Homo sapiens: one gene and its partners. The protein of the gene in region 3 interacts with the protein of the main gene of each other region in a pairwise test. Each region holds a gene or a part of one and is shown on either strand. Other genes may lie near its edges. The genes, in order: XIRP2, CMYA5, DYSF, COL12A1, DGKD, ZNF23 and ANKRD1.

The links.
Region 1: the proteins of DYSF (region 3) and XIRP2 interact in a two-hybrid assay, tested with the Homo sapiens proteins (one large-scale study listed by BioGRID and IntAct).
Region 2: the proteins of DYSF (region 3) and CMYA5 interact in a two-hybrid assay, tested with the Homo sapiens proteins (one large-scale study listed by BioGRID and IntAct).
Region 4: the proteins of DYSF (region 3) and COL12A1 interact in a two-hybrid assay, tested with the Homo sapiens proteins (one large-scale study listed by BioGRID and IntAct).
Region 5: the proteins of DYSF (region 3) and DGKD interact in a two-hybrid assay, tested with the Homo sapiens proteins (one large-scale study listed by BioGRID and IntAct).
Region 6: the proteins of DYSF (region 3) and ZNF23 interact in a two-hybrid assay, tested with the Homo sapiens proteins (one large-scale study listed by BioGRID and IntAct).
Region 7: the proteins of DYSF (region 3) and ANKRD1 interact in a two-hybrid assay, tested with the Homo sapiens proteins (one large-scale study listed by BioGRID and IntAct).

What each region holds. Positions count from the first base shown.
Region 1 is NC_000002.12:167,254,846-167,258,428, reverse strand, and holds part of XIRP2 (xin actin-binding repeat-containing protein 2), read right to left. Parts: intron 573-3,583; coding exon of another isoform or gene 1-572.
Region 2 is NC_000005.10:79,797,132-79,801,214, forward strand, and holds the end of CMYA5 (cardiomyopathy-associated protein 5), read left to right. Parts: intron 1-2,238; coding exon 2,239-2,485; 3' UTR 2,486-3,091; downstream 3,092-4,083. UniProt on the Homo sapiens protein: May serve as an anchoring protein that mediates the subcellular compartmentation of protein kinase A (PKA) via binding to PRKAR2A. May function as a repressor of calcineurin-mediated transcriptional activity.
Region 3 is NC_000002.12:71,514,757-71,519,452, reverse strand, and holds part of DYSF (dysferlin), read right to left. Parts: intron 3,831-4,696; coding exon 3,702-3,830; intron 3,274-3,701; coding exon 3,211-3,273; intron 2,465-3,210; coding exon 2,414-2,464; intron 1-2,413. UniProt on the Homo sapiens protein: Key calcium ion sensor involved in the Ca(2+)-triggered synaptic vesicle-plasma membrane fusion.
Region 4 is NC_000006.12:75,087,554-75,091,053, forward strand, and holds part of COL12A1 (collagen alpha-1(XII) chain long), read right to left. Parts: intron 2,746-3,500; coding exon 2,557-2,745; intron 1,622-2,556; coding exon 1,553-1,621; intron 195-1,552; coding exon 24-194; intron 1-23. UniProt on the Homo sapiens protein: Type XII collagen interacts with type I collagen-containing fibrils, the COL1 domain could be associated with the surface of the fibrils, and the COL2 and NC3 domains may be localized in the perifibrillar matrix.
Region 5 is NC_000002.12:233,352,571-233,357,800, forward strand, and holds the start of DGKD (diacylglycerol kinase delta), read left to right. Parts: upstream 1-1,923; 5' UTR 1,924-1,948; coding exon 1,949-2,104; intron 2,105-2,559; exon of another isoform or gene 2,560-3,053; coding exon of another isoform or gene 3,054-3,089; intron 3,090-4,530; exon of another isoform or gene 4,531-4,717; coding exon of another isoform or gene 4,718-4,753; intron 4,754-5,230.
Region 6 is NC_000016.10:71,448,948-71,452,718, forward strand, and holds part of ZNF23 (zinc finger protein 23), read right to left. Parts: intron 1,769-3,771; exon of another isoform or gene 1,647-1,768; intron 939-1,646; coding exon 1-938. UniProt on the Homo sapiens protein: May be involved in transcriptional regulation. May have a role in embryonic development.
Region 7 is NC_000010.11:90,914,574-90,918,641, forward strand, and holds part of ANKRD1 (ankyrin repeat domain-containing protein 1), read right to left. Parts: intron 3,258-4,068; coding exon 3,159-3,257; intron 1,697-3,158; coding exon 1,598-1,696; intron 1,308-1,597; coding exon 1,209-1,307; intron 1,069-1,208; coding exon 970-1,068; intron 1-969. UniProt on the Homo sapiens protein: May play an important role in endothelial cell activation. May act as a nuclear transcription factor that negatively regulates the expression of cardiac genes. Induction seems to be correlated with apoptotic cell death in hepatoma cells.

The DNA of each region.
Region 1 (3,583 bases), about 96 Mb from region 3:
TTCTTCCTTCAGGCATTTTCATTTCTTTGATTCCTATAACATCCTCTTTCTGACAAACATGGGTGGACTGTAGATAAGGCTGCAAAAATGGAAAGTGATCTTGTCTTTGTCCTTTATTTTCTGGAGTTCTAACATCTTCTAGCAGAGATTCACTTTTAAATTCAGGGGATAGCAGGGTTGTCATTTCAGGTGGCCACTTAGGTTTACTCATTTTGAGCTCTTCCTCAAAGGGTAAGGTTTTCTTAGGGATCTCCTTGGAAGGAGGCCAAATGACTTTTAATTTTCCCCTTTCCCCTAATTTTCTCAAATCATTCCTTTGCCCTTCACTGTTACCAGCATCTAAATGTTCATTACGATCTCCAGGTACAAGGGTGTTTTCTGCAATATTTTTACACATATTTGGTTCTTCATTAGGAATAAAGTCCACTGATCTGCTTTGGTTTTTGCAGTTCCATCTATCTTTATGCTGCTTATGTCCAAAACCTTCATCATAATTTCCTTTGGATTTGAAAAGTTGTTTAAAGTGAGGTTTACAGTATATTTGTCCATGAAGTGATGCATAATTTCCCAAACTGCCAAAAAGAAAAAGAACACTTAGCAGTTCGTATTTACTGTAAGTTCATAGGGAATTGGGGATTAATTATTTCAATGAGTTACAGACTAGTAAACTTAAGTTACTAGCAATGGGAATGGCCCTATTAGTTGAACATTTCTGTTAGATAATATTACCACCAATACTTTATATGATGTATGTCTTGCAGTGTTTAGAATTTTATGATGTGTGTCAGGTATTGGCATAATAGGTATTATAGGGTAATGCACATATGGTTATACATGGTGCAGAGTGATAGGACTGAACTTGTGCTAATTCAATGATTTATGTGAGGCGTTGTAATTTCCAATAAATCCTGAGTAGCAAACACATACAAATCAACAATATGAGCTTCTTTGTTAACTGGATTTTGAACGAGCTGGAAGGTGTGCCTAACAATTGCTTATGTGGCCTCTTTAAGGAGATTAACAAATTGAGTGATTTAAAATTAAAATGAACTCTAGTCAGAGGCAGGAGCATAGTTTTCGAAATATCTATGAATCTACACATAAAAACAGATACATCAACAAGATAGCAAAACTTAAAACCCATGGGGAACATTTACAACTAAATGAAGTGACAAGATAGCCCCCTCAACATCAAAATACAAAGAACTAAGGAGAAACCACCAACAGTCACAAGGCCAGCATGATGGTCTCATCTGTATTGGTGATAGCAGAGGGAGCAAGGAAGATGTCTGATGGACCTGAAAATATGAGACCACAAAATAACCAACTAATATTTCCTGGAAAGTATCACATGCCAATCAGAGAACAGCAGCTGAAACTTTGAGGAGATTTGTGATCTCCAATAGACAATGAGTGCAAGGTCCCTGTGGTAAGGAAGACTTGAAGAGGCTAGTGAGGTTGAACTCCTAAAACTGGGCTCCCCTTTTAAACAGAATCCCAAAGTGAGAAAAAATAGGAGAGTAGAATCAAGATTGAGCAGGATAATGATTACAGAAATGAAAGAGAAGGTTCTGAAAAATATGGAGAAGAGGAGCCAAGCCAGGGAATTCTGGAAATCAAGCTGCCTTATTTTCTTGATCAGCATATGAAAACTAAAAGAGGTAGCTCTGTGAAGTTAGAAAAACCATCCTGATTTTTATCCTTCTAAGGTTTGGGAAAACTAATTTTACATAAAAATGAGAAACAGAAATGTACCAAGGTAAATAATATATGAAGTTATTAAAAGAAAATAAAAGTGCAAAGGGCATTATAATATCCCTGTAGATAATGAAAACATGCCAGAAAAACATGCCCTAAAAATATATCAAAAATTTAACCTATGACTTCAAAATGAATTAAAAGACATTAAGAACATGATAAAAGACCTGAAAGAACATCATGAATCAGAATTTAAAATCTCATAAGTGAGGTGCCAGAAATCAGAAAAAATAGAAATAAAAGATAAAAATATCAGCAACAAAACTAAACTAAAAGAAATACAAGAGCAAATAAACACAATAAAAAGTGGCTTAAGAGAAACAGAAGAATGAAAACAACTTTTTCAATAATCAGAAAGAAATAAATATGAAAAGAATTTGAGAGAAAGAGACAGATAATAAAAATAGGCAAAAAACATTCAAGGTATAGATAATAGGAATTCTTGAAGAAAAAACTATATAATAAAACAGATTAAATATTAAATAGTTATAATTAAAACAAACTTTCTTGATACAAAAAAGCATGCAACAACATACAGAAAGAGCACACTGGGTAACTGACACTAGTGAAGAATGACCAATGCCAAGAACTAATCTAGTAAAATTGCTAGATTTTAAATAATAAAAAGAAAAAAATCTGTGGGTATATTTAAGAAAAAATATACATCTTATAAGGAAAATAAAATTAGATCGTTATCAAGCTATTCCAACACTTTATGCCAGAAGAAAATAAAATAATGTATCAAAGAATACAATGAAAGTATAAGCCAAAGATTTTAATTTCAGCAAAACTGACTTTTTGTTATAAAGGTCACAGACAAATTGTTATCAGCATGTAAGAATTCAACGAATATTGTTTCCATGAAGAGTTTAGAAGAGTCTACTAGAAACCAAGCTTTAATATCAGAACAACTGCAGAAACATCAAGGTAAGCATTGGTGGTGGGCATTAATATCTTGCAACCTGAAAACTAAGATGAAATAAGGGCAAAGAGGGAGATAACACGGTATGTAGTGGCTATATGATCTGAAACTGAAGATGTGGTACAATAATTTATAAAATGGGGAGGGCAGATGTAATTTTTAAATGTTTTGATAATGAAATTAGTGGTGCTAATAGATGATACTTGCTATGGGAATGGAGAAAAGTATATAGCTTAAGAGGTATTTATGGGGCAGAAATTGCAGGACTTGGTGACGGCTTGAATGTAGGGAATGAAGGAAAGGAAGGAGCCAAAGATAACTCCATGCTTTGGTCACTGAGTTAATGTTAATGTCATTTACTGATACAGTAGCATAAAGACTGTAAGTTAAAGAAGGAATTTAGATAGAAGAAAATGGGGCATATTGAGTTTGCTGTACTTATGAGAAATCTAATTGGAGAAGTATATCAGTCATTGAGATATAAGCATCTGATGCACAGAGAGATTTGGCCTAGCAGTACAGACTTCAGAGTCATTACCACATAGATTATTTAAATCATGGGAGTGGATGTGATTCACTAGAAAGAAGAGAAACGTTGAGAAGAATAAATTCCCATAACATAATTGTGAGGACCTCTTACATCTTGGTAATGGACAGAGAGTCCCCCACACAGGTGCCTGAGAAGGAGCACACAAAGAGTAGGGGAAAAGCCATTATACTCTGTTGTTATGGAAACCAAGGGAAAAAAATGTTGCCATGAGGGTGTTCGACATTGTCAATTAAAGTCAGAAAAAATATAGTGTGAGAGATGCACATTAGATTTAGCCAAAAAAAAAAAAAATCAATTTTAGCATCTCAGACTACAGTCACACCAAATGTCACATTCAGTTAAATGCATTTACT
Region 2 (4,083 bases), on a different chromosome or scaffold from region 3:
ACTCTTTGGTTTGCACTTGCCCTTTGGTTCTTCTCTGCTGTCGGACTGTTCACCAACCATCCATTTATTCATTGCACAAATATGTACTAGGAACCACTGGAGTGAGACCCTCTAGAACTCCTTCACCCTTGTCTCTCAGGACTAGGGCCTCTTGGAAGTTGAAAGAGACCCAAGACTCTTCTACTAATTGGGAACTCTCAAAATACTATTATAAAAAATAAAGAAATGCCAGTTAACAGGGTTATTAAAATTTACTCTAAGGACTTACATTTCACATAGTAATTCTTTTAACAGACACAATTGCAGTGACAAAGGCAATGACTTTATATATGCCCATATCTGAAAGAAATGTCAAAAATTCAAATTTATAAAGCCCTCTGTGAAATATGAGGCCCTATTCAAATGGCCCTCCTGGTCTTGTCTGTCACCTTTTCCTTCTTGGCTGCTGGCACCTTCCTATCTCATTGTCAAGGAGAAGCCACCACACTATCTCCACATCTGAGTATCTCTATCCCATTCTCCACCATTAACTTTAATTTTAATGGAAGTGGCCACACATGTCTAGTGGCTACTATATTAGACAGGGCAAGTCTAGAGCCTGGCCCCTGACTTACTTATCCACGTAACATCCTAAAAGTCACCCCCATGTCCTGTCCAAACCCAAGAGGCCAATGGTGATGTTCTCTGCCACATACGGACTTCTTCAGCCACCTTACCATCACTGCTGCTGCCCTTACTGTGTGGATTTTTCTCCTTCTTTTTCACCTATTCAAGTCCTGCCTGTCCTTTCTGGCTGAGTGTGAGCCCTGTGCTCCCAAAGCCTTCTGTAAGAGCCCAGCTCACACTGCCAGTCCCCATCATTGCTACCTGAAACGTTTAGTCTGTCTTGCAGGTTCCAGAACATCATAGTATTCTGGCATCTCTCTCATTAGCAAGGCATTGAAAAGGTCCTTTATCAACTCAAAAGTCTCACTTATCTCCCCACCACCGTGAACCTCTGCCCTTCCACGTGAGCTTCTTTCTGCAATGAAGTTGCCAACTTGCCATCCCCTAAATACTTGCACTTGAGCTTCTGAGCCTTAAGACAGTTGTTGCAAGTCTTGAAGATCCTCAGCCCTCCCTGCCAGACCCGTCGCTTACCCAGATTCTTAGGTCCAAACTGCCCTGGTGTTGCTGTGCTCCCACCCCTCCAGCCTACACATCCGTCGACCTTTCCCTCATCTCTCTTCTTCCATCTCTCATTCCACTCCTTCCGCTACTTTCAGGGCCCCATTCTCAGTTTCTAAGACTACTGGGAGAAAACCCCAAACTTGTGTTACTTTTTTACATAGAGCAATTTAGCTTTTCTGGTCAGCAGTTTCTCCTTTCCAGCCTGGCCTTGAACCTTTCCCTTCACAACCAAAACAGCTTCATTAAATGTGTCTAGTAAACACTTGAAGATCTACACCCTGAGAGGCATTCCCAGCCGTGGTCCGAGTTTCAAATGTGGGCAGTTTTTCCTTCCTGCTCCATACAGTATGGGATCCCAGAGGGCAAGGACAGCACTTCATGTCCTTCACATGCCCCAGAGTGCCTAGTAAAGTGCTGGATACATGGATATGCACAAGGAATAGTTGTTGAGTTGAATTTGTCTGAATTAAAGAGAGGAATCAAAGGCAACCCCGCTGGTGGCAAGGCTGCAGAAAACCTTGAGAAAATGAAAAGGAGAGTTGGTTTGGGGAAGGGGGAGCAGAAACAAAGGATGAAGTTGGCAAAATAATGAAATATTCCTTAAACTTCATAAAGGCCTTTATGTAAGTTACCTATAAAATTTTAAAACTGTAAAATTAATACATTGTATGGAAGGCAAGCTTACGGTACTTTTAAAAATACATGGCAGCCTCAAAGGAGTTTTATTCAAAAGAATGACACGCCATGAATGCGGTAGTTAAAACATGTGGGCAGCTGGGAGAGAATTAGAATGTGGAGATAAATCACAAGGGAGGCATATGTTGGCTATTCTGGGACTGCCTCCTAATGTAGGAGGAGCAAAATTATTAAACATGCTCATCTGTTGGGATAAGCTCTGCATTTTAGCATCTAGAAGAAATCTAGTGAAGTATTTGGGACAGCATTATTGCAACTCCTTATTGTGAAGTGGAGTTAATAACTGAAGAATTGGTTATTCCCAAGTGACTTTCCTTTTCAAATTCCTTGAGATTTCCAGAGTTTTATGTTTCCCATTCGCTTTCATTTCAGATACACATTTTTCTACAGTGGTATTGTGAGTGATGTTCATGTGACTGAGCGTCCAGCCAGAGTGGGCATCCTGCTGGACTACAACAACCAGAGACTTATCTTCATCAACGCAGAGAGCGAGCAGTTGCTCTTCATCATCAGGCACAGGTTTAATGAGGGTGTCCACCCTGCCTTTGCCCTGGAGAAACCTGGAAAATGTACTTTGCACCTGGGGATAGAGCCCCCGGATTCTGTAAGGCACAAGTGATCCTTGGCTTTCAGAATTTGCAAGAACAGCGATTTGAATTTTGGGGGGGTCTGCTGTTCATTCCTTTAGGTGCTATACATTATTCAAAAAGTCTCCCGCGCATTTGCACTAATGATGGCTGCATGCATAGCAATCAGCATGTGAGCAAAATCGACAAGAAAACCTTGACTTTACAGAGCAGTGTGTGAGTAAACAGAATGAAAACAACAACCTCCACTCTTTAGTTTATATAAGTTTGAGTTCTTTCCTAAATTAAAAGATCTACACTTGAGTTGGGAACCGAAAGAGAAAAATGGACTTCCATCTGTTTTACTGGTAAAGGAAATCCTCTGATGGACAGGTCAGAGTGAAGGAAGGTTGTGCTGGTAAGACATCTCTGACGAAGAGCCATGGATGCTTTCCACAAAATGTCACCTCGCTGCACTAAAGGATGATGAATCCTAATCATTAAAGGAATTGTTTCAGCTGATTTAAATTTATAATGAACTCTTTTGTAATAATGTATACTGTAGAACATGAGTCTCTCCTCCCTAAAATTTTAAATGTAGAAAAGTGCTATATATTAGAAATTTCCATTTTGTTAAATAAATGGTTAGAGTCTATAAAGCCAGTCGTGTTATGTGAACTTACTCCATGTAACTTACTGGCCTGGCATCTCTGGAGCAGGACAAACTGCAGAGTAAAACTCATTACACTTCAGTGCAGTGCACTACTATTGATTTTCCTGTGAGAATTTTACACACACACACACACACTTTAAAATCTAATCACTCTCAGACCATAGTTATAGTCAATTAACAGAAGCTGGGAATCTATTTTTACTAAAATTAAGTGGTCATTTTAAGATATTATGTTGAATCCCTCAAAATCTTTCTAAAATATGTGTGCAAAGTGGATAAATCTAGAATGTATGTCAAGATGATTGTGCTTGTCTTCTATAATGTAAATGTGTTGATCATACTTGTAGTTTTTAAAAAATACTTCAAAACTTGAATTCAGATGTTTTCTTTTTTTTTTTTGAGGTGGAGCCTCACGCTGTCACCCAGGCTGGAGTACAGTGGCATGATTTCGCCTCACTGCAACCTCCGCCTCCCAGGTTCAAGCGATTCTCGTGCCTCAGCCTCCTGAGTAGCTGGGACTACAGGCATGCGCCACTACAACTGGCTAATTTTTATATTTTCTTTTTCAGACGGGGTTTTGCCATGTTGGCCAGGATGGTCTTGAACTCCTAACCTCAGTTGATCTGCCCGTCTCGGCCTCCCAAAGTGCTGGGATTACAGGCGTGAGCCACTGTGTCCCGCCCAGATATTTTCTTGAATTGAGAAATAATATCCTTCTTTCTGAATATATTCTAAAATCTCTTGTTTAATAGCTAGAAAATCTGAACTGGATCTGTAACTGCCTTACTAGAGCCCTTGGAGGCCATTACCACCCTGATTGCAGTTCCAGCAGTTGCTGGCAAGATGGAGTCTTGGTGAAACTGGAGAAGTAACTTGCTGCTTTGTGGAGAATGTTAGTTTCACTTTCTCAATCCTTGAAAATGTTATCCTCAGGTTCTGACTGCTCAGCCAGCCGTGCTCATTATTACTGGTTGTTGT
Region 3 (4,696 bases):
TCCACTTAATTTTTGCTGTGAACCTACAACAGTCTGTTTTAAAAAGTCGTCTTTTTTTTAAATCATAGATTACTTTTATAATTAGATACAAGTAAAATAATTTTTTGACTTAACCCTTGGGTTCTCAGAACAAGACTCAAAACATAATTAAGATTTAATTTGTTACAGAATGACTTGGGCTCAAGCTCATTCTTTTAAAAAATGCTTCTCCAGGTAAACAGACTTAGTTTTTTATCTTGTGACTTCTTCCCACAGGCAATGATTTGAGAAGACAGCGCAAAGACAAAGAAATCTCACCCACTGATCTAGCCATCAGGTCCAACCCAGTAATTTTTTTTTTTTTTTTTTTTTTTTTTTTTTGAGATGGAGTGTCGCTCTGTCATCCAGGCTGGAGTGCAATGGTGCGATCTTGGCTCACTGCAACCTCTGCCACCCAGGTTCAAGCGATTCTCCTGCCTCGGCCTCCTGAGTAGCTGGGATTACAGGCGCATACCACCATGCCCAGCTAATTTTTGTATTTTTAGTAGAGGCGGGGTTTTACCATGTTGGCCAGACTGGTCTTGAACTACTGACTTCAAGTGATCTGCCCACCTTGGCCTCCCAAAGCACTGGGATCACAGGCATGAGCCACTGCGCCTGGTCCCAGCAATTATTTATTGGGCAGAATAAATAATTCTAAGGTAACTTCTGACAACAGGCAGAACCAAGCCCCTTATTTTAAATTCATATTTAAAATACAAATTTAAAGAAGGAAGGCATGATATACTTGGATAGAGGGGAGAGGGGAAAATAAGCTTGTGCTCTTTCTTTCCTTTTGAGAAATCCTTGAAAATTTCAAAATGAGAAAATTAGTAACAATTACATCAAATTACATTAAAACACCATGCAGGCCAGGCACGGTGGCTCATGCCTGTAATCCCAACACTTTGGGAGGCCAAGGTAGCCAGATCACAAGGTCAGGAGTTCAAGACCAGACTGACCAAGATGGTGAAACCCCATCTGTACTAAAAATACCAAAAAAAAAAAAAAACTGCCAGGCGTGGTAGCACACGCCTCTAATCCCAGCTACTGGGGAGGCTGAGGCAGGAGAATCACTTGAATCTGGGAAGCAGAGGTTGCAGTGAGCTGAGATCACACCACTGCACTCCAGCCTGGGCGACAGAGCAAGACTCCATCTCAAAAAAAAAAAAAAAAAAATCATACAGGTCTCCTTTAGTCTGTGCAATTACTAGTTACCTTTACTTTACGTAATCTGTTAAATCCATTGGCTCTCGGTTCTCAGAAGAGGACTATTCACTTCTGGACTGTCTGGGACAAGTGAGGAGGCTGGGGCAGGGTTCCCCTCTCTCCACTGCCTCTCCCTCCCCCAGGGATCCATATCTGAACCCCACTCCCATCCCAGGGTGAGAGTGATGTCAGGGCAGAGAGCGCTGGGTCTCACTGGCCCAAGATGGCCAGGATGAGGAGGAGGGCTGCCCAAACTCAGATCTCACACGGCCTTCCCAGAGGTGGGGGAAAATCCAAATTACAAATAAGGGTCTTGATTCTGCTTGTTGGAAATAAGGGAAGAAGTACTTCCCTCCCCTCTCTTTTTGTCAGAACACTTACCTTAGAAAACTTGTAAATATATTACACTTTCCCTGTCTCTTTGAAATGCATCTTTTTAAGAAACTAAATAAGCCTTTTGTCAGCTTTAGTATACAAATATCATTCTCAGGACGTCTGAAATATAAACACCAAGGGAGACGGCTCCCCTGTGTCCCAGCTTCTGTCGGAAGATAGGAGCCTAACTCCCGTGCGCACCTTGCTCCAAGTTGTAAAACTACTTCCTGTCATAAAAATATGAGTTTGATTTTTGTTTGGTCTTCTGGACACAACAAATTAGCTAACATAGATGGTCACCCCGATTACCAGGTGACTTTGGGATGAACTCGGTGTGACCAAAGGTGCTATACATCTTTTTAAGAAACTAAATAAGCCATTTGTCAGCTTTAGTATACAAATGTCATTCTCAGGAGGTCTGAAATGTAAAGTCCCCTGACCTGAGGGTGGGGCATAGCTTCTCTTGAGAACGTATGTGGTGGGCAATGGGTTGGACCCGCTGGCTAAATTAGCGTGAGATTTCTTTCTGTCTTTGCAGCATCTTAGTGGATCATTGCCTGTGATGTACATCTCACTCTGGTTTAAGGCCTCTTCAGTGACAAAAAGTGCTTTCTTTCTCTTCTACCTTTGTGGAGAGGTTTTCTGGGGTGAAAGGAGATGCTGTGCAGAGGGCTTGGCGTTGTTCTTTGAAATTATATTTTCCCAAAGCAGAGAAACACAGGATCTCTGGAGCCCCTGCCCATGGTCCACAGAGGCTCCACCAACACGGAGAAGTGAGAACTGACTGCTTTCATAGAAAATAAGCAATTACCCGGAACTCCCCGAGGAGAGCATCTGTCCTGAGAGAACGAGAGTCTACCACCTGCAGAGAAAGATCATGGAAACTCACATTCACAGGGAACATGTGGCCCACACGGCCAACCCAATAGCTCTTCCCTCCCAAACAATAACTGCCAACACTTCACACTTACTCAATTCCAGAGACTGTTCTAAGCAGTGTTTAGCCCTCACAGGAACCCCATCAGCAGATACTGTCATTATCCCCATTTCACAGGTGAAATAGGGGCACAGAGACTTGTACAGAAAACACAATCCCTACACGGCATAGACAGAGCTGGAATCCACTCTAGTGCCGGAGCCTACACTTAGAGCCACTAGGCTGCAGTGCGCTTCAGAGGAGATGGGGGAAGAGCCAAGGCCCAGAGAGAAAGAGAATCTCAGTCAGAAGCAGGCACGTGGATTAACAAAATAAGATGGAACCTTAAATGTTCATTGCCACAAGTGATTTAAGGACCCTGACCTGAGGCCCCAGGGGGATGCTGAGCAGTGGGCTCTCCCGCAGCTGCTGCCTGCCAGCTGAGCTGTTGCAGGCATTTCTGTGACCCGTAGAGCCTGACTGTGAGTTACTCCACATCATCCATATGTCAGGCTTTAACACGTCTCCCTCTCACGCACATACTCACATACACACCGACAGGCACACACACGCATTCACGCATTCACACTGACGTGCACATGCACACACGTGCACAAACACACACGCGTGTGCACTGACACCTATGTGCATACATACAGCCCACGGAGAACACTTTGACTGCTGAGACATACCGTGATAAAGATGGGCTCATCAAACAGCTCCCCAGGAGAGTCAAACAAGTTGAAGAAAAGAGTCTGTTGGTTCAGAGCAAAGAGAGACATATCAGTGCCTGCTGATCCCTCAGGCCAGGGAGAGGGAGGACCACCACCCCCAAGCCTCCACGCCTAGCAGTTTAGTCCCCTCAGAAAATGTGGATTGGGCACAGTTCTGGGGATTGGACAAGTTCTGGGGTGATCTGCCCCTGGCCTCACAGACGTGGTCATTTCAGGGTTGGGTGGGTGGCTGGCCCTATAGGGTGACAGGGATGTGGAGCAGCAGGAGAAGTAAGAGCAGGAGCCCTTTCTCCAGTCCCACAGATAACCTCCTTGGGAGCCAGCACATCTCACCACCCAAGGTCAGCGCCATACGTAAACACTCTTGAATGAATTGCCAGGTGTCTGCACTGGGCTTCCAGATTGGAAGGCCCACCAAGGTTCTGGCCCTCATGCCCCATGTCTCCCACCTCATTGAAGAGTGGGCTGTTTCCCTTGTGGATCCGCGTCCGCTTGGTCTGCCCTGCAGCGGTAACCTTGACCACAGGCTTGATGTTCACCCCCGGCAGCTGGCGCCCCTCGATCACCTGGACCCTGATCTGAAAGCCAGAAGGAGGAAAGAGCAGGAGGAAGGGGGAAGAGTTAAGGACCACCCACCATCCACCCCAAGAGTCAGAAATCTCAGGGACCATCTCACCACTGGCTTCTTGGGGAAAGTATTAAAAAGGAATTAGGAAGAGCATTATACGAACTATCATATTTTCCCACCAAGGCCCCTTACATCTATAAAATTCCACAGCTCCATAGAAGAGCTGCCAGGCTGCCCCTCGTCGGCTACCCACATTAAACCCCAGGGGTGGGCAGATACAGCCCCCATTTATGTCATTCAGCCATTGGCACAAGCCCCACCCGAGACCCCATTGATACTGGCATTTTTAAGTGGCTTGAATATTCTTTATTGACAATTCCCTCAGAGGTCGAACTTACACAGTGAAGTGACCCCAGAAATAGTCTTTATTCTTTATAAGATGCAATGCTTTCTTACATTCTGAGAAATAAATTAAGAATTTTTGCCATTGAGCTGTAAGTAAATGAAGACTTCAAGAACGTCTATGCTTCCAAATATTAGGTAAGATATTTTAAAATATGAAATTTTACAATATTAAGGCAATTCTATGGAAAAAAATAAGATATTTACTGGCTCCACTTTAGAATCAACTGTTATTTACTGACCAACTGTTTTTTTTTTTGTAAATTGCATAATATGGGAGGATATATTCTTAATAGCAATGGGAAGATGGATGAGTGATTTTTAATCTCCTCATTTTAATATATTTTCCAAAGTGTCTAAAATAAACATATGGTATTTCCATAAAGAGAACAAAGGCAATATGAACATGTTTGGGGAATAGTAGTATGGGGGCTAGAATTTTGTCTTTTGGGGCAAACAGTGGTTAGAGCTAGG
Region 4 (3,500 bases), on a different chromosome or scaffold from region 3:
TTCCTACAATGGCAACAACGTACCTGGATAGCCTTGCCCGTTGTATGGGATGCTGGCACACTGAGAAGAATCACAGTATCCAGGAGGACCTGGGGGTCCTCGGATACCTGAGTTTCCAGGACGGCCAGGGGGGCCAGGGGGACCTCTTGAACCTGTGGACCCTGGTGGACCTGTTCTGGATTCTCCTTGTGGACCTAGTGTGGAGTTAAAACAAATATATTTCCCCTCTTGTCAAATACAACTCCTGAGGTAGCCACCAATACTTTAAGTGGCACCTCCACTGTCTCAAAATTAGACAATTTACTATTGTATGGTAAGAAAATGTTTCCTTAAGAAATACCCAATATGAACCAAGGTGTGATGGAACTTTCTTACCAGTGACTCATCAGAGTTAATGCCAGAAGTATTTTATTCCAGAAAACCTGATTTAGCAAAAATTCAGCCAAACCAGAGATATCAGTGAGTTCTTTGGTTTGCTCCCACTCTCACAGAGAAAAGAGCACCTGAAGGAAACAGCTCTGTTAAGCAGCTACATTGAGCTGCCATCAAAAGAAGGCAGCGTCTGCTCCACACCTCCAGCCTATGCAAAGCAATATTGTTTCTGGATCAATAGTTATAGTTAACATAAATGGAAAGATTTAGCCATAGGGCTGTCCTTGGTTGCAAGGGTATCATGTGCCTTATAATGAAAAAAGAAATCATTTACAACCTAGTAAACAAAATGCATCAGACAGACATGTAGTAGTCCTATCCAAAATATAAAAATGCTTTGGGAGAGCAGTGAATGAAATTTACCAATATCTCAGGCCCTTTTAGTGAGGCTATGTTTTCTCAGTCTAATAGCCCCATATTGAAGACTACTGGAAAAAACAGGAAATATAACCATCTTTAAAGTCTATGAGGCCAAAAAAAAAACAAATAGGAAGGGAGGAAGGAAGGAAGGAAGGAAAAGGGAAGGAAGGAAGGAGACAGAAAGGGGAAATAGTAACCCTTTGTGTCACTAAAATTCATTTCATCATATATTAATGTTATAGTTAATGCCTAATAGAAACTTTTCATTTTTTTAACAAAGGGAACATGAAAATGAAGTTATGGAGGTTGAACTTCTTGCTAAAACATATGCCATGGTAATAAGAATGCTTTATGCTATAATAACAGGATGAAGTTGGCTGGGAGCGGTGGCTCACTTCTGTAATCCCAGCACTTTGGGGCCAAAGTGGGAAGATCATGAGGTCAGGAGATCGAGACCATCCTGGCTAACACGGCAAAACCCCGTCTCTACTAAAAATTAAAAAAAATTAGCCAGGCGTGGTGGCGGGCGCCTGTAGTCCCAGCTACTCGGGAGGCTGAGGCAGAAGAATGGCGTGAACCCAGGAGGTGGAGCTTGCAGTGAGCCAAGATCGCGCCACTGCACTCCAGCCTGGGTGACAGAGCAAGACTCCGTCTCAAAAACAAAAAAAAGAATAACAGGATGAAGTTGTGAATCTCTTCGGGATGGTGTGCCCTCTCGGTATTTATAGTCTTTGCCTGTTTAAAATACTAGCAAACCTACCTGGGGGGCCAGGCAGCCCCCGAGGTCCTGAAGATCCAGTACCCCTTTCACCTTTCTCTCCTGGCAAACCTAAGGAGGGAGAAAAAGAGAAAGCACAGGGGAAAAATTATCTGGAAGCATGTAATTTTCATCTTAACTGATAATATTTGATTCAAGTAATTCATTTCCTTAGTGAAAGCAGAACCTAATTTTTCACAGAAGTTCACTCTTTAAGCCAAGTTCTTTCTAGACATTTGTGTAATTCTAGATTTATGGCCAAGAAAAAATTTGGCTACAAGGCAGGGGAAAAATTATTTGAAGCAAACAAACATGTCTAATATATTTTTAAATAGTAATTAGGAACAGTAATCCTGAAGAAATTGTTATAATATCTCATTGAAAAACATATTAAAGGTATTTTATCTTTAGTAGCCCTATTAGTACAGCAGCCAAACCAGTAGAATTATAGAAATATGTAGGTTTTCTCTAGAGTATTAAGTACTCCTTTGACAAAAGTGGATACCCAGAATCCTGAAATATCTGGAATCAAATAGTCCTGTTTTTCTCCTTTTCCTTCAACTGCAGTTATCTATACCATGAAATTAGAGCCAAACAAACATACAAGACCAGTGCCAGACCCTGAATAAAGGAACCAAAATAAGTTGGATCTAAAACTCTAGGGCTGCCTAAGAACATTCAGTTGCTGCTCGACTCTTGCCGCAGTCACAGAGAGTAATAAGATTTGGGTAGCTGATTTAGTTTGCCAAGATAGAGTTTTTCCCATTAAAAACAACAAAAGTCAGAAAATAGCATTATCTTTACTGAGATCTGATAAAAACATACCATTTTTCTAAGACATGGATCTCTATGGCCTATGAGTTGCCTAACAGCTCTTCTGAGGCTGTCCAAACAAGACCAGGGAAAGCAGTTTGCCTAGGTCACCTTTCAGATGCCTTCAACCTGTCCCAACTCCTACATTTGCAAATTCCTTCCTTTATCCCAATACAGAAGCCAGAAATGCCTACCTCGTTCCCCAGGGGGTCCCTGCATCCCTGGTGTGCCCGGGAAGCCTGGCCGCCCCCCAGGCCCAGGTTCTCCTCTGGCTCCTGCGCTACCAGGAGGTCCCGGTGGACCCGGCGGGCCTGGCTGGTTGCGACTGGACTGGTAATCATTTGGAATCTGATTCAGCATCTGATTGAATCTGTTCATCTGACCTACAAGCAGAAATAAGGCTTGTTAGTAAGAAACCCAATAAAGGACGGATGAGAGAGTGAAACTGTTTTCTCTTAGTGTCTAGTGAAATCCATCTCCATTCTGCAACCCCTCTAAGGAAACAATCTAATTAGAATCCTAAAAATAAAATTAAGACAGTCTAATCATCGAGGACAAAATGGTCCCTGATAAATAACTGTTTCCACAAAATGCTGACCTACAAGCCACAAACATTACTACAAATATAAAAGAGTTGTTAAAGTTTAATATGGCTCTGAAATAAAGTCTTGAGATTTACCAGGTGACATCACTCAAAAGAAAACCTTTTTTATAATTAGATAATTCTACAATTTTTTGTATATCTAAGGCAATGATAATCAGGTTTCAGTGCAAACTGGAATTGCCTGTGGGGCACCTTGAAAAATCTGTATTTCTGGGCCTTATCTCCAAAGTCAATGATTCACTAAGCTTAGGGCATGGTGCAGGAACTCACTTCTAACAAGCAACATAAGTGATTCTAAGGCAGGTGTTCCTCAGTACCGCACTTTGGAAAACATTGATTAAGACTTCTCTAAGAGTGAGTTATGGGTTTAAGGCCCACACCAGTCTGCAGGTACTGAGCTTCATTACTTAACAGGCCTTATGGAATAAGAAGAGCCTGTGAAAAACAGGCAAGAGAGAGTTTCCTACCAAAATCAACTTTCACTGATCAAATTCATCTTGGTGGGCCCCCTTCCTTAAGGTCATAAAATGACTT
Region 5 (5,230 bases), about 160 Mb from region 3:
GAAAAGTCCCAACCCTGTGGGGAGGCTGGAGCCCTTTGTGCCTGCATGAGTTCCCTAGGGCTGCCAGAGCACTGCACCATAGGCCGGGCGGCTTCCACCACAGGAATTGACGCTCTCGGTTCTGGTGGCTGGAAGTGCGAGATCACGGTGTCGGCAGGGGGAGTTCCATCGGAGGCCTTTCTCCTTGGCTTGTAGATGCCATCTTCTCCCTGTGTCTTCACATGGGCTGCCCTCTGTGTGTGTCTGTGTCCTCATCTCCTCTTTTTATGAGGACGCCAGTCATACCGGATTAGGGATCACCCCTGTGACCTCATTTTAACTTCATTACCTTTTTAAAAACCTTAACTCCAAATGCAGTCACATGCTGAGGTACTGGGGGTTAGGACTTCAACATATGAATTACGGGAGGACACAGTTCAGCATGCGACTGTGCTGCAGAACTTTCTGGGGGGACGGGGGAAGTGTTTTATATTTGTGCTATCCAGCGTGGCAGCTGCTAAGCCACATGCGGCTACTGAGTCCCTGAAATGTGGCTCCTGTGGCTGAGGAACGGAATGCTGAATTCTAACTAATTGAAATTTAAGTAGCCACATGTGGCTAGTGGCTATAGTACCCTGGGGCACCATGGGGCCTTCGGCCTGTCCCGGACTGTTCCTGCCTTAGGCCTTGTCCTCCTCTGTCCTGGCCGTGAGCCCATGCCCCTGGCCGTGTCCCCATGCCAGATGCCACTCTGCAGCCCCAGGTCACTGCCCAGGGCGGCGCGGCCAGCGAATGCCTATTGGCAGGCGAGGTCTCTAGCGGCAGCCCTTTGACAGGGAGAGGGCACACCTGGGCAGTCCCTTACTGATTTGCCCCTCAGAGCAGGGCAGACAGATGGACAGCATTTCCTCTGGGTGGCACCAAGCCCTGCTCCACCTGGATGGCACCAAAAACTTAGCTGATCTCATCTCCAGCTTCGCTTCCTCCTCTTCTGCCCAGAGCAGCGCTGGACCCCACCCGCCCACCATCCAGCAGCCCCCCTGGGAAACATGGGACTCGTTCTGGTCACCTCTGTCTCCCTCCAGTCGCTGGTCACTCCCCACCTGGATCTCAGTCCACGTCTCTATCTCTCAGCCCCTCGGTAATCCAGGGCGTCCACCTGCCCTGATAACTTCAAAGCCCGGATCACAGGCCCCAGCGTGGTGACCCAGCCCCGCCCAGGGTTAAATCCCTCAAGGGCTTCCTGCTGCCTTCCATCCCCTTATCTGGTTTCCAAAGCCCGCTTCGACCTGCCCGCCCCGAGGCTCATATCTTAATGCCATTTTCCTTGCTCTAAGCACCAGCTTCCCTTTCTTCCCCCGTCTTCGCCCAACACTCGTTCTTTCTTGCCTCCAGGCCTTTGCACAAATCTGGTCTCTGCCTAGAACATGGTTCCCTCTCTAGTCACAACTCCTGCTCACATTTTCCATCTCTCCTTAAGAACCGTTTTCTCCAGGAAGCCTTCCCAGATGGAGCGGTGCATCCCAGCTCTGGCGTCCCGAGGCCCGTCCCAGTACCGGGGTCTCTTTCCAGCACGCGCGCGCGCATTCGAGCTCGCCCCAAACTCGGCCACACAAGGCTGGGCAGGACAGACACAGCCCCAGCCTGCCTGAGGTTACCTACATTCTGATGCGGAAGAGTAGAGATGTTTTAAGAAGTGAATATAGAAACAAGAACACAAACGGCGTTCCAGAAATAACACACAGAAGCCACGGCCCGGAGAGGTGGGCGGGGGGCCCGGGACGCTTCAGGTGGGGGCGGGGAGGGGCCGCGCGGCGCCGTCTGCAGCTGCGCGCATGGCCGGCAGGGGGCGCGGCGGGGAGAGGCGGGAGGCCGCCCCCACCGCCCCCGGCCCGGCCCGCCCTCGGCCCCGCCCCTCCCGCCGGCCCCGCCCCGCCCCCGCCCGCGGTGCGCGCGCTGGCCCGGCAGCATGGCGGCGGCGGCGGGCGCCCCTCCGCCGGGTCCCCCGCAACCGCCTCCGCCGCCGCCGCCCGAGGAGTCGTCCGACAGCGAGCCCGAGGCGGAGCCCGGCTCCCCACAGAAGCTCATCCGCAAGGTGTCCACGTCGGGTCAGATCCGACAGAAGGTGAGCCCGCGGCGCGGCGGCCCGGGCGCGCGCCCCTCACGCCGCGGCAGCCCCGGCCGAGGCCCGTGGCCCTGCCCGAGCGGCCGCCCAGGCCCGGCTCGGCCCGGCCCGGGGTCCCGCGGGCGTCACCGCCCCTGTCGAGCGTGCCCCGCCGCTGTAACGGGCCGGCGCCCCGGGCGGAGCGCGCGGCCCCCGACGGACGGCGGGCGGCTGTGGGGCCGGGCGGGGGGCGCGCAGGTGGGCGCCCCGGGCGCCGCGCGCTGGGCGGGGGGCGCGCGCCGAGTTGGGCCGCGAGGACCCGGAGGAAACTGAGGCCTAGATGCAGGGGACTGCGCTCGTGCCACCGAGCGGGTCCCACGCGGGGGCTCCCGGCTGCGCCCCGCGGGCGTCCGCGGTCCCCAAACCCCGGTTCTGCACGTTTCTCAGGAGCGGTCGGGTGGTGTCCCGCGAGTGCCCTGCAGACTTCCCTGTGGTGCCCTCAGAAGTCCGCTCGGACCCGGGTGCGAGGGATCACCCCTTCACCCCTTCATCCCAAAAGGGAAGGAAGGGATGCGCGTTCAGTGACCGTCTCTCTCAGCAAAGCCGGGACCGCGCACCCGCTTGGCACCCAACTCTCCACGGAGAACTCCTGACGCTAAATGTTAGATAAAGACGCACGTCCTTTTTGCAGGAGGAAAGTTGCACCGTTTGTTTTCCCATTGTGCTTCCTATTGAAAACAGCTTACGGTTTTTGCTCCAGGTGAGCCCGCCCGGTTAGAACACTGCTTCCTCAGGCAGGTGGCTGGACAGGTGGCTGCGAGCAGGCTGGGTCCCTGGGGCAGCTCTGGCAGATCCGGTTGGCACGGACTTTCTCCTCCTGCTGCAGTGCGCTTTTCCTCCGGGGCGGATTAGGTTCAGCCGTTCCCTTCACCGTGGGAGCCTTCTCTTCTGTCAGCCTTTGATACCTGCGATGGGGGAACCTGAGGTCCTAACATGTTACAAACAGGTTTGTTGTGAAGTGCTCCAGTTATTCAGCAAATAGGTACCGAACACCTGCTTTGTTCCGGGTATAACAGTAGCAGTAGTGATGATAATGATAGCAATAGCAAATAACAATTCTTTAATAAGCCTTCTATGTGCCAGGCACTTTCTTGGGTTAGCTTTACAGCACTTGACATGGTTAGTTTATTAGTACTGGTGAGAACCCAATAAGTTGGATGCTATCATCTCCGTCTTTTGGAATTGGAATAGAAATAGAATCAAGGTTAAATGACTTGCCCAGGGTGTCACAGGTCGTAAATGTGGATGTGTGTTGGAACCATGGTCAGGACCGTAAGATGGAAGGCAGTTTCTACACCTAGGGATTCTCAGTCTAGTTGGGAGATGGACGCCTGTGCACCTGACATGACAACATTGTAAGTGCCGCGGAAACTCGGGGCAGAGACCTGCCCTGGGGAGGCAGGAGTGGTTTCCTTTAAGGTGAGATCTTGAGGGATAAAGAATTCACCAGGCTAAGTGGGTAAGAAATGGCCTTCTACATATTTGAACCTTGCGTCTAGAGCTTTAGGCACAACTGCGAAATGATCAGAAGTTGGGCCAGAGGTGGATCACGTTGATTAGACTTATTAGTTGGAAGGGTTGGTTAGGGCTGAATTTCGAAGGGGTGGTCCTTTGAGGGGTTTGCTTTTTGGCCTTGGGCAAGAGGTGGCCACAGAGGATTGTTCAAAGTATGGGGGTGATGGATCAGATGTGCTTTTGGGAAGATCTCCACATAGCCCTAAATGATACTGATAGGAGTTGCTTTCTCCTGTTGCCCAGGCAAGGTACTGACCAGTGTGGGGTAGATCATGTGATTTACAAGGTTGATTAAGATCAAGATTGTGTTGAGAGAGATTTGATTCCTGGGAGATTCCAGTGTTTAGAATTTTGTTGGTTAGGAGGTGTTTTTGCTTTCCTTCTTTTTTCTCCTAAAACAATAGCTGCTATACCAGCTGTTCTGGTTGAGGAGGAGTGATGGGTAGACTGTTAAAAATACACCCCGAGGACTTAGAGTTTCTGAATACAGTCACATCTGCTGTACAGATAGCTTAAGGCTGATTTTTCTTCTGAGTTGTTAAGAGATTGTCAGAATGTGGGAATGCGAGGTTGACTGTATGTAATAGCTCCATTTTTTTTTTTTCCAGCAGATAAGCCATTCACAAAATTCCTCTGGTATCTATGGTACATAATAGAAACATCAAAAATGGTATGGGGTAGCAGTCTGAGTCTAAAAAGAAAAACAGAACTCACCTTAAGTATTTGGAACAGAAGGAATGTAATCTAGGGGAGTGGTCACACAGGTGATGTGAGAACTGAGAATGCAGGCTGCAATGAGGCAAGCCGGAGATGAGGCAACAAGCAGGAAACTGCTGCCACCCCTAAGTTGGAGGGTGAAGGAAGGAGATGGCATTTCAGACTCCAGGGACAGCTGTCACCCACCAAAAACTGGGGTCACAAGGGGTCCATCTGGCAGTGGCTGGAGCCTTGCAAGGGCACAGCTGCTGCTGCGGATGTACTGTTCCCCTCCTGCCTGGGAACCCTGGCCTTGCTGGGGTCACCTCCTCCACAACTTGGACTGGAGCAGAAGGACAAAGAATGGATCTGAGGACAAGCTGGCCCAGGACCAGAACTGTATGTATGTCAGGCTTTTAAAATATTAGTCTAGTGCAAGTCAGAGCTGTCTTAATGAAGAGAAAAACAAAAGAGAATGTCTTAGGGCAGTGCTCCTCAAATTTTAATGTGCAGACACATCTCCTAGGGATCCTGTTAAAATGATGATTATGGTTGAGTAGGTCTAGGGTGGGTGGGGCCTTAGAATGTGCATTTCTTTTTCTTTCTTTCTTTCTTTTTTTTTTTTTTTTTTGAGACAAGGTCTCACTTTGTCACCCAGGCTGGAGTGCAGTGGTGCGATCTCAGCTACGGCAACCTTTGCCTCCTGGGCTTAAGTGATTTTCCTGCCTCAGCCTCCCAAGTAGCTGGGACTACAGGCAAATGCCACCATGCTGGCTAATTTTTGTATTTTGTTGTAGAGATGGAGTTTCCCCATGTTCCCCAGGCTGGTCTCAAACTCCTGAGCTCAAGTAATACACCCACCTCAGCCTCCCAAAG
Region 6 (3,771 bases), on a different chromosome or scaffold from region 3:
TGTGTGGATGCTCTGATGCTGCCTAAGCTGGGAGCTGCACCTGAAGCCTTTTCCACATTCATTACATTCATAAGGTTTCTCTCCAGTATGGATTCTCTGATGTTGAATTAATTTTGCATTAACATTGAACGCTTTCCCACAGTCATTACACTCGTAAGGTTTCTCTCCAGTGTGGACTCTCTGATGTGTAATATATGCAGAACTACAGCTGAAGCCATTTCCACATTCCTTGCACTGATAGGGCTTCTCTCCCGTATGGATTCTCTGATGCCTACTTAGGCTTCCATTAACACTGAAGGCCTTCCCACACATCTTACACTGATAGGGCTTCTCCCCACTGTGGATTGTCTGATGTGTGATATAATGGGAACTGTAGCTGAAGCTTTTCCCACACTCCACACATTTGAAGGGTTTCTCCCCACTGTGAAGTCTCTGATGCCAAATTAATTTCTCATTAATGCTGAAAGCTTTGCCACACTCCGAACACTGATAAGGCTTTTCCTCAGTGTTGTTCTCTTGATGTTGAATAAGTTGAGAGTCACACCTAAAGGGCTCTACTAATTCTTCACATTTGAAAGGTCTTTCCTCAGAATTAATTATTTCATGCTTCACGAGTTTTGTATCAAAGCTGATGGATTTCCCCAATCCTGTACACCCAGAGGGCTGCTCTCCAGTGATGGTATGACACTGATATGAGTTTGAACTTTGACTAAAAAAACACTCCTCCACGGGGCTTGTCTCATCTTTCACTGTTCCATCAATGGTGTTGCTCTTCTCCTTCTTTATATTTCCTGCTGAGTGGACTTCCTGTTGTTTCTCTAGAAGAGAGGCTTCTGAAAAGTCTGTTTCCTGGGAAAAGTCTCTTTGAAGTTCAAATGATACATTCTCTTTTCCTTCATACATTTCCTTTGTCAAATCATTGTCAGTCTGAATATCTACTATAAAAAACAGAAAACATAAAATGTCATGTAAGAACCATGTTAGGAAAAAGAAGAGAACTGTGCTATAAAAGACCATAATAATCAGGGGGCTCCTTAAAATCACCAGACTAGGTCAAAAAACATAGGGTTTCTCCATAAGGTGGGATAAGTAATTTGTAACTAACTAGTAAAAGAATACAATAAATCCATATATGCTGACGTAAAAAGACATCCAAGATACAATCAAATGGAAAAACAAGTTGAAAAAACAGTATATAGAATAGATTTTCAGCTGTGTAAAGAAAAATATAAAAGACAGATATATATATTTGTACATACCTAGAAAACTTCTAGAAGAATCCATAAGAAACTAAATAAACTGGCATAGGAAGTTTAGTGGACTTGCTTCCCTACTTTATACACTTTCTGTACTGTTGAATAGGTGTCAATATTATGAAAGTAATGAAAAGCAATGAAAGTAATGATAAAAAAAAAATCACCATTCCCACTGTGCCTAATACAAGGCCACTGTAGAGAACATAACCAATCACATGAAGGTTAAAAGTGACAGCTGGGCACGGTAGCTCACACCTGTAATCCCAACACTTTGGGAGGCTGAAGCAGGCAGATTGCCTGAGCTTGGGAGTTTGCAACCAGCCTGGGCAACACAGTGAAACCCCGTCTCTACTAAACCACAAAAAATTAGCCGGGTGTGGTGGTACGTGCCTGTAGTTCCAGCTACTCGGGAGGATGAGGCAGGAGAATTGCTCGAACCCGGGAAACGGAAGTTGCGGTGAGCCAAGTTCTTGCCACTGCACTCCAGTTTGGGCGACAGAGCGAGACTCCATCTCAAAAAAAAAAAAAAGTGACAGTAGTGGAATAAAATTCTAGGTCTTGTCCACCAGCTCAGCATTCTTTTAATCACACCATGCTTTTCTACACCCTGCAGTTTCTTCTTAGTTGTTCCTATAGCACTCAGTTCCTTACTTAAAAAAAAATGGAAAATGCTGAAGAAGGAAAAGGCACAGGATCCAACAGAATATGGCAACTTGGAAGATGACAACAGTCAGCAGCACCAGGGAGCAAAATGGAAATAATTTTGTTTCTTTCCTTAGAACATTAACTGTGGGCTTTCCAAAATTTGTCCTTCAACTTCATTTCTACTTTAGACAGGCTCTATTTGAGGTCCATCTCATCCCCTTTCTTCCCATTCCCCTCCAAATACTGCTGCATTAACCTTGCCTTTTCCTTTCACTTCTTCCTCTAATCCTAAACTTGATCATTCCCTAAAAATCTTTTTATAATCCCAATAGTCTTTAGAACTAGAACTACTCATCTCTGCATTTGTTCCCAACTTTCTCAAAAGCTCAGTCCCAAAATGCTGCCTCATATTTTTTCATCTTTCATCACTCCTCAACCACATGTAATATGCCCCCTGCCCCAGTATTTCATAATTGCCCTCAATAAGCCCCTCCAATTGCCTGGATTCCCCAGCAAGCACTTTCTAAATAATACTGGTCTCTTCCCAACTAAAAAAATAATACTCATCTGTTGCTATAGACTGAATGTTTGTCCTCCCCACAAATTCATATTCTGAAGTCCTAACCCCTGATGTGATTGTATCAGGAGGTTGAGCTATGGCAGAACCCTCATGAATGGGATTAATGCCCTTAAAAAAGAGCCCAGAGAGCTCCCTTTCTTGCCACCATGTGAGGATACAGTGAGAAGACAGCTGTCTATTAGCCGGGAAGCAGGCCCTTGCCAGACAGAACCTGCCTGAACCTTGATCTTGGACTAGAACTGTATGAAATAAATTTCTGTTGTTTATAAGCCATCCAATCTATGGCAGTCTGTTATTGTAGCCCAAACTGACTAAGACATCTATACTATCAGATGTCTAGTCATCCTCTCCAGAAGTCTATTCCTGCTTTGCTGCACTCTCACCAACATTGAATATAATTTAATTATTCTCAATATGATAGGTGAAATATCTCTCGTTTTCACTTTCCTCTCTTGCAGTGAGGATGGCCATTTGACACAGTTACAGCAAATGAGTCTTAAACAGGTATCACTGACTGGGCTTCTGAAGATTTTTAAAAAGAAAGTCAACACTGCTGCCATGGGCCTCATGCCCTTTGCCCTCCCTTCTGCCTGCCTAGAGCCTGTTTGATTCCTCATCCCAATTAACCCACACACACTGACTACATTAATGTTTCTATCACCAGCTAGGATCATGATGGGTTTCCTGGAAAAGTCAAAGACTTCAGGACAGTCAGCTGTCTACAGAATAAAATACAGGGTCCTTTGATTAAGACCTCACAATATCACTTTTTTCCCTATATTTGTCAAGGCCATTATACGGCAAACTCCATTTCCAAAACATGCCTTCTTTGGTCAGATATCGTCTGATAGAATGATCAAAAGGAATAAAAACCTACAGAAACCATCTAAGAAAAATGAAGACTCACTGAAAAAATTCAAGAGAATCTCACAGACCCTAAATATAAGAAATAACGGGGGGCCTCGGGGGGAATGAGAAGTCATTTGGCAGCTACTCTGCTGGCACCAATTGGAGCCCTGCTCCTTCAAGTGTGGTCTGGTAACCAGAAGTACTGGCATCGCCACATCACCAGGGAACTTCATAGAAATGCAGACTCCACACTTACTGCATATCTGTAAGACCTCAGGATTCCTTTACACATTCACATTTAAGAAGCAAAAATTAAGAGCACTTCCTCCCTTCCACATTACCTTCCCTGTGTACAGCTGTATTCCCCAAAACCAAAATAAAAATACTGAACTGAGCACACATTATAAGCTAGGTATTTGATATGTGTTATCTCATTTAAAC
Region 7 (4,068 bases), on a different chromosome or scaffold from region 3:
CCATCCCAAGCAATCTTCATTTATCACCATTCTTTGATCCTGTCACCAAGCCAGATTTGTTTTAAAAGATAAGATATTCCTCTCAGTCTTTGCAACACAAATAAGGGGAGAAAATTATTTGCATTTATATGATGACTGAGTTTCCCTCCCCCCCCCCCCACTCTTTTTTGTAAAGTGATTCTTCAAAAGCTTCTTTAAAATTATTTCTTCAGAAATTTATACCTGTTCCTCTGGGCAATATTTTTTAAGCTTATATTAGATGGTGTTTGTCTGGAAATTGAGACCATGAGGAAAAGTTGGTTATGTTCCCTGCTTACAGATGAAGTTAAATTAATATGTACTTATACAAGAATTTTCAGGGCCTAAATATAGGAAATTATTTTGAGAGATGTGAAGACAAATCCAAGTGGAGAATGGATAGAAATTATCTGAAAAAAAATACAGGCAAAAGCACAGCTACCCCTGGAAGAAAATGGTGACATTTCACATTGCTGTAAGGAGGAAAGGGACTTTCTGAATTACTCAGATTGGATATTGATTAACCTTAGTTCACTGGCTGCACTGACCCTTGTGGAATTTTAGGACATTTTGGAAATGGTGGATGCCTTTATTTCTAACTTCCTCAGCCCTTGCACAGACAGAAATGGCCAAAGCAGATTGGACTTCTAGGTGTTTGTGGGGATGAGCAAATTTTGACTATCTTTCATTTCCAAGACCAAATTGTAAAAGAATTACTATGCACTGTATCAGGCACTGAGGTCATAGCAGTATCTATGACTTCCCTCATCTCTGGCCATGTGAACTGGGTCCTAGCCAAGATAAACACTGTCCTTGGGGAAATGGGCAGGGGCATTTAGACCATCGAAGACCCCTCAAATACTGCCATTGTGGGAGTCGTTTCACCTATTTAAGAAATGCTCCTGGAAATTGGAAAGCTTGCAAGCGGTGTTTCTTGTTTCCAGTACTTACACAGTTCTTGATGTTGAGATCCGCGCCATACATAATCAGGAGTCGGATCATCTTATAGCGGTTCAGTCTCACCGCATCATGCAACGGGGTATCTCCTTCCTAGAGAAGCAGAGTCAACAGGTTCAAGGTGGGTCTGAGGCCAGGAAGTGGGTCCTGCAAGGGCACCCAGGCTTGGGGGAGTGATTCCAAATACAAAAGCAATGAAGCTTTGGGAAACCCGAGCGTGTCCAGCTACTCACTCTGTCTTTGGCGTTGAGGTCTGCCTCACAGGCGATAAGATGCTCCGCGCACTCATAGTGGCCAGTCCTCACCGCCACATGCAGCGCTGTGCTGAGCAACTGGAAAATTGGAAAACGCTGCTGATTCGCTAGGAATGAGGACAGAGGCTGTCCCAGACCCCAAGACATGTGCGAGGGGGAGAAGTGGTCACTAGGGTGCCTGCACACAGCATGGGCCTCCAGATGACTTTAATGGAGAGGCGAGGTTAGGAGATGGAGGGGTGGGGGAGGAGGGAAGGGCGGGTGGGGGAGAAGGAGGAGGGGGAGGGGGAAGAGTGGGAGAAGTGGAGAAGGATGGGGGACAGGGAGGGGGAGGGGGTGAATGAAGGGAGAAGGAGAAGAAGGAATACCTTATCTCGGGCGCTAATTTTTGCTCCTTTATTCAGCAACAATTTTAAAACATCCAGGTTTCCTCCACGGCTTGCCCAGTGGATGGCTGTGGATTCAAGCTATACCGGGAGGGAAGACCCGACAATGTGAAGGAGAATGTGGTCTGGGGAATTAGAACCTGGTTGCTAGGGCATCCGTGAAAATAATGAGTTGTCCCCATCTAGATTGACAATTCTAACTGGAGTCGAAGGTTCTTACCAAATGTGTTAGCTAAATTACATGTGTGTGTGTGTGTGTGTGCATATGTGTGTCTTATTAGGAGGCTCTTAATAAATCTAATAATGTTTTAAAAGAATAAGAATGGCCACTTATTGAGACATTTCTCATGCCAACATGGTGCTACACTTTAGACACCTTGATTCTTCCAGCAACATTTTGAGGTAGGTGTTGCTATGCACATTTTGCAGATAAGAAAAACCAGGTTCCAAAAAGTTCAAGTTTCTAGCCCAAGGAAACACAACTAATAAGAGGCAGAATACACAGTCAAACTCCCCTCTGCCTGGAACTTCTAACTTCTTTTGTCAAATGTACACAAAAGTTCTAAACACATGTATTTAAAAATTTTGGCAGAATAAAAGTAGTCCCTTCCAAAATATTTTAATCTGGATCTGACACCTCATCTAGGGTCCCTGTCGCTCTTTCTCTACTTCTGTGGGTTTTCTGCTCATTTTTGCTAGCACAGCCTCTGTACCTCAACTGTAGTCACTTGTGTCTACAGTTGTAACGTGTATAGTTACCCCTAGGAGACCCTCTCCTCACTGATCTATGTGGTTGGTATGCCCCTGGCCTTAATCCCACACTCATGATTTTTAGTTTCCATGCAAACTTCATATTTTGTTTCTTGATTTTTTTTTCAATGTGTTTATGTTTTGGATTCAATTTTGGCCAAGTCCCTTGGATTTCTTTGATATCCCGTTGCCGCTTTGCTATAAAGTCAAAATGAGCTGCATTTAAATACATAAAGAATTTTCCCAGCTCAATCTTCAGTTCATAAATTATGCTGCATACTGGTCTTCGTAGAAATCACAGTGATTGAATTATTGAGGTCTGAATAGCAGCTACTTTCCATAGATGCAATTCATTTCATATGCAGTCTAGCCCCAAATCTCATTGGTAGCAATTGGCATCTATCATATAAAGTGTGCAGCTAGAGAATTCGTATATGTTGCTGGCAGCCAACCATAAGCAGGCTGCCCTGTGAACAATGGAGGGACAAGGCTGTTGAAAGGCAAGTGTCGAAAATGAATGACTAACTCGCTGATGAGGATATTGAATTCAGTTTAACAGCTTTCACTTCCTTCTTTTCCCTGAAATATTCCTCTATTTTCAGTATGTATGGAAAATATTTTCACATGACCTACTCTCATCTCCCAACTTTCCTTTATTTGGAGAAATGAGCTTTTGCCTAGTTCTCTCAGATCAATTTTCAATCCAATCAGCTCGGTTTTGCATTGGAGGTTTTCCGGAGCTTCATATAGTCTACTTCTTTTGGCTCATTCCCAAGCAAAGAAATATATTTACCATATCACGGAATTCGATCTGGGCTCCAGCTTCCATTAACTTCTCCACAATTGCCAAATGTCCTTCCAAGCATGCTCTATGAAGAGCTGTCCGTTTATACTATCAGAACAGAGATTTTAAACAGAGATAGCAATAAATATAAAAATGTGTGTAAACCCTTTTAAGAGCTATGAAGCTGGAGATTCTGATGACCTAACTGATAGAAACTCAAGTGCTTCTTTATGAATAGAAATGTCAAAGTTAACTAAAATTGCAGAATCAGAACAATTATCCTGCAACTAATATTTGAGCTTCCTCCAATATACATTTCCAAGGGCTCAAAGGCCTACGTTGAGGAGTGTGAACTTAAAGGCTCAAAACTATCTAAATGCTGACATCTCCGTTTCTTCTATCTTGCACCTTCCTTGTTCATGTAGCATTACCATGCAGATCAGACAGCTTTCTTGCATCTGGGACTGTTGCTAGACTATCAAAAAGTTTCCATTCATTTTTAGGAGAATGGGAGACATGTTTTTAGTTCAACTTCAGAAGCGGTCCCCAATTTCACTTCATGGGGGAAAGAATACAAAAAGATTAGTGATTTCTGATAAATTGGCTTTATTTGAATGGGCTAATGAACTATTAGAGCTGGAACAACTTTAGGCGTTATTTCACTCCAATGCCCCATGTTTACAGATAAGGAAACCACAGCCCAGAGGATGCAAATTAGCTGCTCAAAACCAAATAGCCAAGTAGTGGTACAACTGGCCCCTGAACTCCAATCTCCAGATTTCTTATCTAGTGTTGACGTGCTTGGTTTTAATCAAAGATGATGCTAATAATATATCTCTAAAGGTGACTTTTTGGCCCACATTAAAAGTCTTATCCCAAGAATCTAAGAAGTTAAAGAAAAACTGAAAAATCAGCCAGA